Regions from separate parts of the Homo sapiens genome. Here region 1 is linked to region 2. Evidence: fine-mapped expression QTL. Tissue or cell type: whole blood. Region 2 holds a variant in brackets; the other region holds the start of a gene. All regions are shown on one strand. Distances are between the middles of the regions.

Region 1 (8,000 bases), 27 kb before region 2:
CAGTTTTCCCAGCACCATTGGTTAAATAGGGAATCCTTTCCCCATTGCTTGTTTTTGTCAGGTTTGTCACAGATCAGATGGTTGTAGATATGTGGTATTATTTCTGAGGCCTCTGTTCTGTTCCATTGGTTTATATCTCTGTTTTGGTACCAGTACCATGCTGTTTTGGTTGCTGTAGCCTTGTAGTATAGTTTGAAGTCAGGTAGTGTGATGCCTCCAGCTTTGTTCTTTTGGCTTAGGATTGACTTGGCAATGAGGGCTCTTTTTTGGTTCCATATGAACTTTAAAGTAGTTTTTTCCAATTCTGTGAAGAAAGTCATTGGTAGCTTGATGGGGATTGCATCGAATCTATAAATTACCTTGGGCAGTATGGCCATTTTCACTATATTGATTCTTCCTATCCATGAGCATGAAATGTTCTTCCATTTGTTTGTGTCCTCTTTTATTTTGTTGAGCAGTGGTTTGTAGTTCTCCTTGAAGAGGTCCTTCACATCTCTTGTCAGTTGGATTCCTAGGTATTTTATTCTCTTTGAAGCAATTGTGAATGGGAATGGTGCTCACTACCACGCCCAGCTAATTTTTGTATTTTTAGTAGAAAAGGGGGTTTCACCATATTGGCCAGGCTGGTCTCGAACTCCTGACCTTGTGATCCGCCCACCTCAGCCTCCCAAAGTGCTGGGATTACAGTCGTGAGTCACTTTGCCTGGCCAATAACACAAATTTTTAAGATCCCATGGCCAAAGGCTTCTATTGGCTTTGCTTAACCCAAGATCAACCCCTTTGGAATACATCAGTTGTACCCATTTGAAATAATAACTCACATAGCTATGAATCTGTCCCAGGAAATGGTAACTCCTTAACTGTAAGAGGAGATATATTCCTTTGTTGTTCTAACCTTATGAGATAATTAACTAAAAATTATTACCTAGTGAAAGATTATTTCCTAATGGGCTCTTGGGATATGAAAAATTCAAGACCCACAATTTTCATCCAGGAGACTGTATCTACTGGGAACAACATCCTCTAAAGGACTGTCTCCAACCAAGTGGAAGGGCTCTTACCAAGTGCTTCTTAGTAATCCTTTTGCTATTATATTAGAAGGAATAGACTCCTGGCCGGGTGTGGTGGCTCATGACTGTAATCCCAGCACTTTGGGAGGCCAAGGTGGATGGATCGCCTGAGCTCAGGAGTTCACCAACCTGGGCAAGATGGCGCGACCCCATCTCTACTAAAAATACAAAAATTAGCCGGGTGTGATGGTGGGCACCTGCCTGTAATCCCAGCTACTGGGGATGCTGAGGCAGGAGAATCACTTGAACCCTGGAGGCACAGGTTGCGGTGAGCTGAGATTGCATCACTGCACTCCAGCCTGGGTGACAGAATGAGACTCCATCTCAAAAAAACAAAAAACAGAAACTAGAATAGACTCCTGGATCCATGTCTGGATCTGAAGAGGGCTCCATCTCCTGAGGGACTGTTTCCCCAGAAGGTGATCTCTGTTTCAAAATAAGTCAATGACAGGTCTAGAACAAGATAACATCTGATGTAGGTGGCTAAAACCCAAGACTCCAAACCAGGCCTGTATCTAAACAAATGCTTAATATTAGCAAATGTTAATACATGGGGAAGACTTTCCTTTACAAGCTCCCATTAAACTTCTTTCTTTTTGTCCTTAGTTTTCATGTCTCGGCACTACTATCATTAACTGTTGCCCATAAAGCAAACCTCTTTTTGCAATGGGCTTAGGACTATGCTAATAGATTATTTAAAAAAATGCTGATTGAACATGTGGTCTCATGCCCCTTTCCAGTAGTTCTGGCTTTCCTGGTGGGTATCTTCTCTCCAAGGAAAGAAATATATTGCTCCAAGGAGAGAAGATATTGCATAGAATATCAGAAATATATTTGTGTTTCTTAAAAACAGTCATGGTGCTTGACAGTAGTATGATGAAGGATAAAGTACATCACTAGCCTATTAATAATACTTTAAAGGCTGGGCGCAGTAGTTCACACCTGTAATCCTTGCACTTTGGGAAGCCAAGGCGGGCAGATCGACTGAGCTCAGGAGTTTGAGACCAGCCTGGCCAGCAAAGTGAGACCCTGTCTCGACTAAAAACACAAAAATTAATCAGTCGTGGTGGTGTGCACCTGTAGTCCCAGCTACTCGGGAGGCTAAGGCAGGAGAATCACTTGAACCTAGGAGGCGGAGGTTGCAATGAGCCAAGATCGCACCACTGCACTCCAGCCTGGGTGACAGAGCAAAACTCCATCTCAAAAAACAAAACAAAAACAAAACAAAACAAAACGAAACAAAACCTTTACAGAGTAAAAGCCATGGAAGGAGCTTCTTAGTAAAAGAAACTAGTTTGTTAACTTTAATGCTGGCACTGTCCCAACTAAGTAATGAAACAACGACACTGTTCCAATTAAGAGATAAGACACCTTGATTTCAGAATGGTATAACACAAATTGGGGATGGTTTTATCTGGCTTATCCCTCCTTCTGTCAGCCCAGCCACCTTGTCCTTGCCACCCCAACTTTTTATTTATTTATTTTTTTTGAGACAGAGTCTTACTCTGTTGCCCAGCCTGGAGTGCAGTGGTGAGATCTTGGCTCACTGTAATCTCTGCCTCCTGGGTTCAAGTGATTCTCCTGCCTCAGCCTTCTGAGTACCTGGGATTACAGGCATGCATCACCACGCCCAGCTAGTTTTTGTATTTTTAGTAGAGACGAGGTTTCGTCATGTTGGCCAGGCTAGTCTCGAACTCCTGACCTCAGGTGATCCACCCGCCTCATTCTCCCAAAGTGGAGGATTACAGGCGTGAGCCACCGTGCCTGGCCACTTTGCCCCTTTATGTTGGGAACAAAGAAATCATACCAAAGATATCTGGCCCAAAAGCACTGGAGATATGGCATGGATACCCAAAGAACTGTGTATTCACACCATTATATTACAAAGTACTGACTGGCATGCCATTTAATGTATTTATTGATTAGCTCCAAATGGAACATTTTGGCTATGTGGCACTAACCTATGACCATGGTTACTTCCAGGATAGTTAGGATGATGTTTTTCAGGTTATGCTTAATCATATATTTGAGTAGTTTGTACTTTGCCAAAACCTGCAAATTTTCCTTATTTATGATCTCATTGGGTTCATCCTGTGTTTCATTGGTATGATCACTTAGCTTCCATCTTCATACCACAACTGAGTGTTGAAGATGTTATTTGGCATATAGAGGTCCTAACCAATTATACCCAAAAGATAGCTACATAAGTATTCCATTATTAAACAATAGTTATTCTTATGGAAAAGGCCATTATTACAAAACCGTATGGCTTTTGACATACTCACCGAAGCCCAGGGAGGAACTTGCATTATCATAAAAACTGTGTGTTATGTCTGTATCCCAGATGAATCAGATAATATCACTACGTTAATGGATAATATGAAAACCTTAACAACTAACCTTTCAGATCCAACACATCTTTAAACAACTGGCTAAGCAGCTAGTTTTGATCTTGAAGACTTGGTGGCAAAAGCTTTGCTTATTCTAGGAATCATAATCATTTGTTGTTGTCTTGTTTTTGTCTGCACTATTAGACTGCCACTGCGCCTGGCTATTAATCAGATTTTAAAATAAAGTTAAAAAAAATTTTTAAACAAATTTACACGAAAAGCAAGTACAGTGGTTCTCGAACATGATTGGGCGACAGACTGTACAGCTTGCCAGAAATAGGTTTCTCTCATGAAAATTCAACCCCCTCCACACACGGCCATCTACTTTCTTCTTCAGCAGGGACTGACACCAGGGCAACCGTATTTTCCTAAATACCTTAGGAAAGTAGTTCAAAACCTAGATATATCTTGGTCAGAACAAAACCTGGCAAACACTCATGATAAACGGTATATATAATTCCTTAAACGAAATATAGAGGTTTGTAATATAAAATAATCCATCTTTGTCTGTGGAATTCCTACTAATGAAATACGTTCTTGGAGACCCAAAGACTGAAGTTATACCACTTCTTCTTAATCTTTTAAATATTATTTGCAGGCCAGGCATGGTGACACGCTCCTATAGTCCCAGCTCCTCAGGAGGCTAAGGCAGGAGCATCGTTGGAGCCCAGGAGCTCCAGGCTGTAGCGTGCTGACAGCACTTGTGAATAACCTCTGCACTCAGCCTGGGCAACATAGTGGGACCCCATCACTAATAAAAAAGCGAGATCAACATTATTTATTCTGTTACTCGGGCATAAAATAAATATTAAGCACTTACTACATGCCAGAGTCTATTATGTCTGCTGCAGATATTGGCTGTCATAGAGTTATAACTAACAGGAAACCAAATAATTACGTAGTATAATTTTAAGTGGTGATAAGCACGATTGTTTCCCCCAAGCCATGCCCTTAATTTCTAACTCTTCAGATAGTGTTTCTTTAAAAAATTTCTTGCTAATTTAAAATAACTTTTGTTTTGAGGCAGGATCCCACTCTGTTGCTTAGGCTGGAATGCAGCGGTGAGATCTCGGCTCACTGCAGCCTCCATCTCCAGGGCTCAAGCCATTCTCCCGCCTCAGCCACCCGCGTAGCTGGACCACAGGCGCGCGCCACCAGATCTCAGTTCTCTCAACAGGACTCTCATTGCTAAGATCCAAGGATCCATTAATTTCCTTTTCCTTAACTCTTCTAGCCTCTGCAGCTTTCTTTCCTCATCCACTTTTTAAACAAACGCAGGCTTAAAAAGCAAGGAATATACCCGCCACACTCTCGGCTCCCAAACCGCTCTTTCCCTCCCTCTGCCGGCCACGCCTCTTATAGGCCCGGAAGTTTACCCCACCCTGCACCGTGATTCACCGGAAGCGCTCTAGGGAACCCTGGAGCTTCCGCGCCTGCCCAGTTTTGCTCCGAAAGACTTACCGAGGAGGGAGCTTGCGGTGCGTTCTGGGAAAGTTGCTGGGCCAGCTCCTTTGTTTCCAGTCTGAGCGTTGCGTTCGGTTTCCCGAGGGTCTTCTGAGGCACCGCGGCTGCGGGCTTCTGAGTTCCCGGCTCTCCGCAGGGAAGCCTCCTCTTCGTACCTCGTTTTTTGGCTCGTGGGGGGTCCTCCCACCGCTGGCCGACGCAGCCAGCATGTCCGGGGTGCGCGCAGTGCGGATCAGCATCGAATCGGCCTGCGAGAAGCAGGTCCATGAGGTGGGCCTGGATGGCACCGAGACGTACCTGCCCCCGCTGTCCATGTCGCAGAATCTGGCGCGTCTGGCCCAGCGGATAGACTTCAGCCAGGGTTCGGGCTCCGAGGAGGAGGAGGCGGCGGGGACCGAGGGCGACGCGCAGGAGTGGCCGGGCGCCGGGTCCAGCGCAGACCAGGACGACGAGGAAGGTAAGGCCTGCATCCGCTGCCCGAGTCCCCCGGTCTGGGTCCCAGCACCCGCGCGGGCCTCCGCCTCTCCCGCGATGGGGGTGATCTTGTGCGTGCGAGAACTTTTGAGTGTCCCTCTAGCGGAAGCGTAAGGATACTTGGTCGTCATCTTTTTGTTGCTGCCGGACAAGGTAGGACACGACTTTACGTAATACTCCTGCGGGTCTCCTTGAATGGCAGCGTTTAGAGACACTGTCAAACCGTGAAATGTTTAAATGAATGCTTCTCTGTAGAGGGCCTTTAATGTAGCACACTTAGTGGCTAAAAGAGCCCTAGATCGGGGCTCTGCCCCTTGCCGGCTGTGTGACCTTGGGCGAGTTACTTTGCATCCTTGTGCGGTGTGAATGATGATAGTAGCACCTGCAGAAAAGAGGTCTGTTTTGACTGAAATGTGTGACGAGGTCCAAGAGGTAGGCGGGTCCAGATCATGTAGAACCCAGTAGGCCGGGATAAGCGTTTGACTAGTGTTAAGACCACTGAAAGCTTTTGCAGGATAAGTAGAGATGGTTTTGTTAAAGTTTACTCTAGATGCTTTCTAATAAATGAATTATAGGGAAAGCAAAACTGGAAGGGAGGAGACTAGGAGGGAAGTGAAGAAATAATGAGTGGGTTTCAGATTCTCATTATTGTCAAGGATTTTTGAAAAAAAAATCAAAATTCTTAATTTAGTTATGCAGCACACCCAGTGTAAATGGGAATTTAAAGATGTCATTTCAGGGCAGTGCTGTTAGGATTATTAGGGGTCTATTTGCAAAAAAAGGTAAATACTACTTTATACCTCACACAAAAATTATTTCCACAGTAATTTTTGAGGATTGAAGTGCCAAATGAAGAAAGTAAAACAAAGTGTTAGAAGAAATAATGAAAGAATAGTTGTATTATTCTGGGAGTCGGATAGATCTTCTTAATTTCGGAAATAACAGGACAGGCATGGTGGCTCACACCTGTAGTTCCAACATTTTTGGAGGCCAAGGTGGAAGGATCACTTGAGCCCAGACTTCAAGACCAGCCTGAGCAACATAGGGAGCTCCTGCCTCTACAAATTAAAAAAATTAGCTGGGCGTGGTGGTGCACGTCTGTGGTCCCAGCTACTGGGGAGGCTGAGGGAGGAGGATGGATTCAGCCAGTGAGATCAAGGCTGCAGTGAGCTATGATTGTGCCACCGCACTCCAGCCTGGGTAACAGAACAAGACTCTAACATCCACACACACAACCACACACCTACCTACCTTACAAAGTATAGATATATTACTTACATAAAATTTAAAAATAATGGGAAAAGATGCCATAAGCAAAGTAAAAAGATAAATGACAGACTGGGAGAAGTTCTACACATATAACACAAATTTAGTTGATATCTTCTCTATTCAAAAAGTCCCTTCAGACTGAAAAGAAAATAATGACACTTTGGAAAAATAGGCCAAAGGTATCTGAAGGCTCATAGAGGAGAGACTTCAGATACCAATAAACAGAACATAGACTCAATCTCATTACTAGGGACTGGGAAATTAAAACATGATTAAGATACTCTTTCCATGCACAAAATTGACAGAAATTGAAAAGATTGTTAATATTCAGGGTTAGGAATGTGAACTGGTAGTGATTCTGAAAGACAATTTGGCAGTTTAATATGTGCCAACATTTAATTTTAACTTTTTTTGGTTTGTTTTGTTTTTTTTTTTGAGATGGAGTCTTGCTCTGTCGGCCAGGCTGGAGTGCAGTGGTGCAATCTCGGCTCACTGCAACCCCTGCCTCCTGGATTCAAAACGATTCTCCCACTTCAGCTTCCCTAGTATGTGGGACTGTAGGCGTGCGGCACCATGCCTGGCTAATTTTTGTATTTTTAGTAGAGATAGAGTTTCACCATGTTGGCCAGGCTGGTCTTAAATACCTGATGTCAGGTGATCCACCCTGCCTCGGCCTCCCAAAGTGCTGGGATTACAGGCCTGAGCCACTGCACCCAGCCGAAACTTTTAAATGTATATCTCCTTTGATTCACTATTACCACGACTAAAAATTTAACCTGCAGAAAAAGTTGCACATATACAGGGTATATATTCAAGATGTTTACCACTGCTAGCATTGTTGGAAGCAGTTTACTTGTTGGAAGCAATCTACATGTCCGTTAAATACAAGTGGTTAAACATACCGTACATCCATGTTCCAGAATATCATACAGTGTTAGAAGAATTAAGTAGACTCATAAGTACTAACATGGAAGTGTCTCTAGGAAATATTAAGTGGGGGCGGGGGAAAGGCAAGTAATAGAAAATTGGAAATAGATGTATGTAAGTGCATAGAAAAACCTTTGAAAGGGTACACTCACTGGGGCCGGGCGCAGTGGCTCACGTCTGTAATCCCAGCACTTTCGGAGGCCGGGGCAGGCAGATCACGAGGTCAGGAGATCAAGACCATCCTGACTAACATGGTGAAACCCCGTCTCTACTAAAAATACAAAAAATTAGCTGGGCGTGGTGGTGGGTGCTTGTAGTCCCAGCTACTGGGGAGGCTGAGGCAGGAGAATGGCATGAATCCGGGAGGTGGAGCTTGCAGTGAGCTGAGATCGCGCTACTGCACTCC
Region 2 (8,225 bases):
ATCAGTATTACTAGGCAACATTGCTTATAGTAAAAATGATCTCAAATTGGTAAAATGCATCTGAACCAGGAGAAATTTTAAATAAATGATGGGAATGCCTTTGGATTTTCCTGGATGGTGGTGACTTTTAAAACTGGGCTTGGCTTGTGGAAACCATGCCTATGGAGTTGTTACAGAAGCTTATGGCTCCTGTTAGGGCAGGGCCCACATATACCCAATTGGATCTCATCTCCTTGCAACAAAGGTATTCTGCTGCTATATAGACAGTTGCATGGTCTGCTGGCAAGCTGTGGTCGCTTCAAATGCTTCTGGGTAGACTGGTACTCAGTGTGGTCTATGGTATTCTGGGGTGAGTCTGTTTAGTTGAACCTAAGAAGACACCTGCATCTCCTCCATGGATGTTGGTGTGGGTTATTAAAACTTTTTTTTTTGGCCGGGTGCAGTGGCTCAGGCCTGTAATCCCAGCACTTTGGGAGGCCGAGGCAGGTAGATCACTTCAGGTCAGGAGTTTGAGACCAGCCTGGCCAACATGGTGAAATTCCGTCTCTACTAAAAATAACAAAAATTAGCCGGGCATGATGGCAGGTGCCTGTAATCCCAGCTACTTGGGAGGCTGAGGCAGGAGACTCTCTTGAACTCAGGAAGCGGAGGTTGCAGTGAGCTGAGATCACGCCACTGCACTCCAGCCTGGGCAACAGGCTTTGAGACTTTGTCTAAAAAATAATAATATTTTCTAATTTGATGTTAACGTTTATTATTTATGAAATTGTATAAGATAATTTTGAACATCTCTGATTTTTAGTATGTGTGTCTATAAAGGTCCATTCAACTGCAATTGAATATTGGAGTTGAGCAGATTCGAGTTGTACATAGAGATGGAAGAGTAATTACACTGTCTTATCAGGAGCAGGAGCTACAGGATTTTCTTCTGTCTCAGGTAACAGTTGCAGATTTTGTCTTAAGCCCCCTTCTTCGCATAGCTACTTAAAGAACAAATTGGTTAAAAAGTAGTTAAAATGTAATAAATTGTGTAAGAAGAAAAAAAATTTTTTTCCAGTAGAAATTAAATTCTGTTTAATTTCTAATGCACATTTTACAACCTGTTGGTTAACTGGAAGTACTGATAAGCTGTCCTAGGTTTTCACATAGTTTATGTTAAGATGAAGGACCAGTTCTGAGACTAGCAAGTTTTTTTTCCCACATGTCATATTTGTGAAGGTTTACAAAATCTCTAGGGTTTACAACATCTCCAGAGTTGTTGTAGAAAGTGAAGAAAACTAGAGAAAGGGAGATCATATAAAAAACTATAATGACCATTATCCATAATAAATGAAGTAGTTTAATCTCAAGTCCAAGGGGCAGTATAGAAAGTGATGGGTTTGAGGCTGGGTATGGTGGTTTGCGCCTATAATCCCAGCACTTTGGGAGGCTGAAGCGAGAGTATCACTTCAGGTTGGGAGTTCAATACCAGCCTGGGCAACATAGCAAGACCCCTGTCTCCACAAAAATAGAAAATTGAGTGGGTGTGTTGGTATGTACCTATAGTCATAGCTATTAGGGAGGCCGAGGCAGGAGGGTTGCCTGAGCCTGGGTGTTCAAGGTTACAATGAGCTATAATTGGTCCCACTGTACTTCAGCCCAGGGTGACAGAGCAAGATACCATCTCTTTTTAAAAAAAAAAAAAAAAAAAAAAAGGTGATGTGTTCTAGTCCCAGCTCTACGACAAACTTGCTTTGTGACATCAGACAAATTTCTAGCCCTTTCTTTTCATATCTAACTGTATTTTCCCTAATTTCTTCATGGAGTTTTTAATGACCCAGTGAAATACTGAATTGTGAGATATAGGGTAGGTTTTTGAAATGCTAATGCAAGATACTATTTTTTTTTCACATTAAAAAAAATAGTATCTTGCATTAGCATTTCAAAAACCTACCCTATATCTCAGAAGCAATAATCTTATATACTGATTTGCTTCTTTGGTGGCCAAGTAAGTAAAATTCATTTGTTAGGTATGGCAGCTCTTGGCTGATTACATCTAAATTGGCTTTGGTTACTTTAAGCACACACACAAAAATATATTAGAACACTATTGAGTAGGTCCCAGAATCAATGGGAGGTCTAGAGAACAAGGCTTGCAAATGGATAGGGATCAAAGCTAGGTATGAGAACCATGGCCAGAGGAATGGCACTCATGCTGTCCCAGCACTACTGCCTTCAGCACTGGTGACAAAATGCATTCTAAATTGCCCCCATTGTATCAGTCAGAGTCTTAACAAGAAATAGGTGGCAGACTCAGGAGGATCTAAAGATCTATTTACAAAGAAGTGGGTGTAGGTGAGCCACCAGGGATAGTGTGGTAACCTGCTGCTAGTAGTAGTAACCAGGTAACCAGGCCCCAGGGACTTAGTGGTCACCATTCCTAGGCCAAAGTTAAGAGGAAGGACAGATTACAAGAACCCTAAGGGGGAGAGTCGTGTAGAACAGTCCATCTTGAGAAGCCTAGCAGCCAGTCAAGAGATACAACCAGCCTAGACAACCTCACAGGGAGGGTGCCAGGGGAATAAATACCCTGACCTCACTCTTCCCTGCCATCCTGCTGTCTCCCATTACCTGAACCCAGCCCAAAGCCAGAGGATGTAAGAAGGTATTAATGTAACCACGTGTGTCAGCCTCCCAGGGCAGAAAATAAGGTAGGCAGTGGATTTGAAGGGGCAAATGTTACACCATATTCAGTGATCTAGATGAGAGTCTTCAGTTGGCCAAATTTATGTCATATGTCTTTGCTTAAGCTGCCAGTGGGCAGGAGAAGCAAGTATCAGGCAACTTTAGCTTTGGCAGTGGAAGGTGGAGTCCTATTCCCTCCCCCTAAGTTACGCACAGGAGGATTCCTCAGACCTAAGATAGGGTTGCTGTAGTAGTCAGTGAGCACCCCAACAAAAGTTTACTTCATGGTCGTGATGTTAAGTCACTGCAGATATCTCTGCTGACTGTCAGTCAAGTGTCCTTTTTCATTCACAGATGTCACAGCACCAGGTACATGCAGTTCAGCAACTCGCCAAGGTTATGGGCTGGCAAGTACTGAGCTTCAGTAATCATGTGGGACTTGGACCTATAGAGAGCATTGGTAATGCATCTGCCATCACGGTGGCCTCCCCAAGTGGTGACTATGCTATTTCAGGTACTTTCTGCTGCTTTGAATGAGAAGGGACCATTGGGAGTTTGGCTTTAACATTTAGTTTTAATAATTAAATATGGGTAAGAGTAATTTATCTCTGCAATAAATTAGTTAATGTTGTATTTACACCGAATGTTTATTTGATCATAGCTATTATGCAGAGCAAGAGATTATTATTTCTCTTTCTAGTAATTATAATAAATGTTTAGATTGGCAGCACATTTTCCTGAGATAGTCTGAAAAGTATCATCAGCATTGTTACTCCTGCAGTCCCAAAGTTTAATGGATAAAAACTTTAAAAAAAATATATACTGCTGTAAACATGGGAAGAAAAATATCTGATCCTAAAAATAGTAAAGGGATGGAACAGAGAGGAATATCTAATGCAAGGTACTACTTTTTTCACATTAAAAAAATAGTAACAGTTTTTAAAATATTCTAAAATAAATAATTAAAAATAATTTTAAATAAAGTGTTTTGTTTTATTTTATCTATTTATTTATTTTTGAGACGGAGTCTCGCTCTTTCGCTCAGGCTGGAGTTCAGTGGCGTGATCTCAGCTCACTGCAACCTCTGCCTCCCAGTTTCAAGCGATTCTCCTGCCTCAGCCTCCCGAGTAGCTGGGACTACAGGTGCCCATCGTCATACCCAACTAATTTTTGTATTTTTAGTAGAGACGGGGTTTTGCCATGTTGGCCAGGCTGGTCTCAAACTCCTAACCTCAGATGATCTGCCTGCCTCGGCTAACCTCAGATGATCCGCCTGCCTCGGCCTCCCAAAGCGCTGGGATTACAGGCGTGAGCCACCGCACCCGGCCGAGGAGAAGTATTTTATTAAGCACCTTCTACGAGTGGGCACTTTAATAGGCACTTGTATGAGTATTACATAGCTTAAATTTACATTTGAAGCGCTTATGGTTTTAGTGTGATCTTTGTTTCTGATATCTGCTCTGACTACTTTAAAAATACAGTCATGTGTTGCATAATGACAGGGACAGGTTCTGAGAAATGTGTTGTTAAGAGGATTTCATCGTATGATAATAGAGTGCACTTACACAGCCCTAGATGGTACAGCCTACTACATGCACATCTAGGCTTCATGGCATAGCCTGTTGCTCCTAGGCTACAAACCTGTACAGCATGTTACTGTACTGAATACTATAGGCAGTTGTAACACAACAAAAGCAGTTGACTGAAATGTTA[C/T]GCAGCTCATGACTGTATTTGAAAGAGTGGGTAGTTAGAAATATTTCCTCACAGGATCACAGCTTGTGAATCTGCAAGCTTGGTCATTGCTGGATCTTGATTGCTAGGAATTTCAAAATACCCTTTTCCTCTTTCCCAAATAATAGTTAAAACCTCATTAAAACCTGAAATTCTTAATTCAGAATAATCTTTCCTTCATCCCTTTCAGTCCTGATTTTAAGTGGTTGAGGTTTCTTTACATATTAGGCATGTATTAACAATTCATTGAATGATTGCCTTATCAAATGAATGTATTGAAAAAAATAGGTGAGTGTACTAGGCGTGGTGGCTCACGCCTGTAATCCCAGCACTTTGGGAGGCTGAGGTGGGAGGATTGCTTGAGCCCAGGAGTTTGAGACCAGCCCTGGCAACATAGAGAGACCTTGTCTTTAACCGCCTCCCAAAAAAAGCTTTGTGTTTTTCAGTGCTGCATGTGGAAACAAACAAAAAGATGATTTCCTGAAATTATAGAGGACATTTGACATTCCTAGGTCAAAACTCACCTTGCTTAATCTTTGTGGTACAAATAATAATTCATGAATATTTATACCATCCTCTTATATAGAAGTTAGAGTTTTTCTCTTGCATGTTGAAACTGAAAAAGCACTTTTTTACAAGAATATTTAAGTTGGTAGACAAAGTTTTTGTATTCACAGTAGAATGGAGTTGTGGGATTTATCCTTGTTATTTCTAGTTTGGTAAACTAGAGTGTATTGATATTTTGGTTTTTCTCCACAGTTCGTAATGGACCTGAAAGTGGCAGCAAGATTATGGTTCAGTTTCCTCGTAACCAATGTAAAGACCTTCCAAAAAGTGATGTTTTACAAGATAACAAATGGAGTCATCTTCGTGGGCCATTCAAAGAAGTTCAGTGGAATAAAATGGAAGGTCGAAATTTTGTTTATAAAATGGAGCTGCTTATGTCTGCACTTAGCCCTTGTCTACTATGATTTTTTCCAGATGTTTCCTAAAGAAGTTTCCAGAAACTTTGACTTGAAATGTTTGCAGATCAACTATAAGCACAAAGAAGAGATAACTTCCAAAAGAGTGCTGTTTTTAAAAATAATAATTAGGAAATGTTTATTTAGCACTTTCAAACTTTTCACTTTATAAATGACAAGTGCTTTGAAATGCAGAAGTTTATGTACAGTTGTATATACAGTATGACAAGATGTAAAATAATATGTTTTTCATGCAGTTTAAAATATTACTAACTTAAGGGTTTCTATGTGCTTTTTAAAATATTCCTTCTTTGATGTTGACATCAAATAAAGTATGTGGTTTAAAAAAATCTCCAAATACCTTTTTTTCCCCCCAAATACTTTCTAAACTTTTTTTTTTTGAGATGGTATCTCACTCTGTAGCCCAGTCTGGAGTGCAGTGGTGTGATCATGGTTCACTGCAGTCTTGACCTCCCAGGCTTAGGTGATCCTTCTGTCTCAGCCTTCCGAGTAGCTGGGACCACAGGCATGCACAACCACGCCTGGCTAATTTTTGTATTTTTTATAAAGACAGGGTTTTTCCATGTTGCCCAGGCTGGTTTCGAACTCGGCTCAAGTGATCTACCTGCCTCTGCCTCCCAAAGTGCTAGGATTACAGGCGTGAGCCACCATGCCCAGCCTACTCTAAATTATTGATAACCTCTTCCTCCAGTTGTCTCCTTTAAGCTTTCCTGGGTCTAACCTACATAGGTAATTTAAGAACATCCTCAGAAAGGACAGCTGAAGGCAATAGGAGGCAGATTATCTCTTTAGGGCGTCCTCAAGTTTTTTTGGTCTGTTCTCCCACTTGATTGACCTCACCAGTTGAGACACCTAGTGTATGGCTCATGCCCAGCCTTCCACCTGGGATTCTCCAGCCTCCACCCAGCAGCCCTGGATTGCTTTCTCCAATTAAGGCCTTTCCATCAGCTCTCTGCTTTTTCAAAGCGAAAAAACTAATGGATTAGTGGGTTATCTTTTCCAAGGAACAGGTTTGCACTTCTTGGAAAAAGTGCCTAAAGTGTGCCCATTAATATGAGGATAGATTTAGGCTCATAAGCCTTTTGGTAACACTGAAAGTAGTATCATATAGGCAAGCTCTCCTTATAAGTAAGGCTTTCAATTTTTAAAACAGACATCCTGCTTTAACAATTTGTAAGATGACTGTGCAGTAATAAAAGTCCTTTGTATTTCTCCACCGTGTTTTCATTAAAGAAAAATGGAGCTTGTGGGCCACGATAGAACAACTTTGTGCTTTTTTCCCCTTCTGATCAAGATCTTGCATCTTTCTATCCATGGAAATTAAAATAATTGGTATGAATTTGCAGTTATTTAAAAATCTTGAGTGCTTCAAAAATTATTGTTGCCTGCAAAATTTGCCTTGGTCAATAGGCTAATCTGCACAATTCCACTCACATAAGGAGTCTTTTATGTGATTTTGAAGGCTCAGGCTAGAAGAGTGAGTCTGAGACTTTTGCTGAATGACCAGTTTTTGTTTATATAAACTTCTCCCATTGCAGATTGATACTTTGGTAAACTAATAAAAATGAATTCCTAAAATGAAATTTTGAAAAGATACAAAATAAAAGCCCCATTTATTTGATTATAACTTGATTAAATTGCATCAAATACTAGAATTTATAGACAGAGTCTCACTCTGTTCCCCAGGCTGGAGTGCAGCAGCACTGTTTTGGCTCACTGCAACCTCTGCCTCCTGGGTTCAAATGACTCTCATGCCTCAGCCTCCCGAGTAACTGGGATTACAGGTGTGTGCCACCACGACCGTCTAATTTTTGTAATTTTGATAAGAGGGTTTTGCCATCTTGGCCAGGCTGGTCTTGAACTCCTGGCCTCAATTGATCCGCCCACCTCGGCCTCCCAAAGTGCTAGGATTACAGGCATAAGCCACAGTGCCCAGCCCCCCCAAATATAAACATTTCTGAATGCTTTATTTTTTATTTCTCTGCTTGTCATGAATCAGTAACAAATCATGGACCAGGACCACACCTTGAGTAGAATGGCTGAGAATACATGTGCAGATACTACCGTCTGTTCTTTTAAACCCCATCTGAGTAGAGTGGGATAACTGAAGACTTTACGTTCTTCATGTCTTACTTTCCCTGTTTGGTACGTCGCTGTAGTGAGTAGCCAGTACCGACCTAAAGAATTGTAGAAACTAAAGCAAATGTGTGGGAAAATGGTAGCTTAGTTGCTGTGGTAGCAATTCTTATGCCTTGTATTTATTTACATTTTCTAGTTTAATGTTTTAACCTGAATTTCCTGGAGTTTGAAGGATGTGCTATGGAAACTTGGGAGACAGTTTGAAGAAAACCAATTAGCCCCTCAACAAGTATTAACAGGTTGGCAAGGAGCTGTGTTTGAATCTTGGCTCTGCTACTGGCTTGCTGTATGAACTTGGCAAGGATTCTCTGTGAACTTGTTTCCTTATATATAAATGAAGATAGAGGTGCCTCCTCTACTAACCTCAGTGGTGATTGAGAAGTTTCAGTAACGTTGGTAATAAATGTTAAATTCTAAAGTACTACATAAATATAAAGCATTAAGCAAGTGTGCTTCTAAGAGTCAAGCCAATTAGAAAAAATGGTTGAGACACCAGCTGTATTTATTAGGAGAAAGCATTTCAGAATGTCCTGTATTCATATTTGTATGATGTTTTATATATGGTGAAGATATTGAGTGTTTTTCATCAGATTTCTTTGCTGGAACACCATCAAATCAAAGGGATAACCTGATTATCTCATGTTGATCAGGAATTGTAATTGGCCCTTAAATGCTGGGATTACAGGTATGAGCCACCATGCCTGGCCT

Evidence for each region. PIP is the estimated chance that this variant, and not a neighbour inherited with it, causes the effect.
Region 1: it holds the start of MED17, and the variant in region 2 is fine-mapped to the expression of MED17 in whole blood (TOPMed, PIP above 0.99). The same link has a PIP of 0.9 or more in lung.

The regions. Positions count from the first base shown.
Region 1 is chr11:93,779,383-93,787,382 of GRCh38, forward strand. MED17 (mediator complex subunit 17) reads left to right here and starts at 4,900. Exons shown (of 12, transcript NM_004268.5): 1 at 4,900-5,381. The coding sequence starts at 5,132. RefSeq lists enhancers at 4,721-5,015, 4,957-5,176, 7,185-7,684 and silencers at 5,307-5,436, 5,438-5,632.
Region 2 is chr11:93,806,699-93,814,923 of GRCh38, forward strand. MED17 (mediator complex subunit 17) reads left to right here. Exons shown (of 12, transcript NM_004268.5): 10 at 820-937; 11 at 3,019-3,178; 12 at 5,155-8,225. The coding sequence ends at 5,366. Among named protein-coding and RNA genes, the nearest start is that of MED17, 27 kb to the left of the region's middle. The variant C/T (reference allele first, on the strand shown) is at 4,378.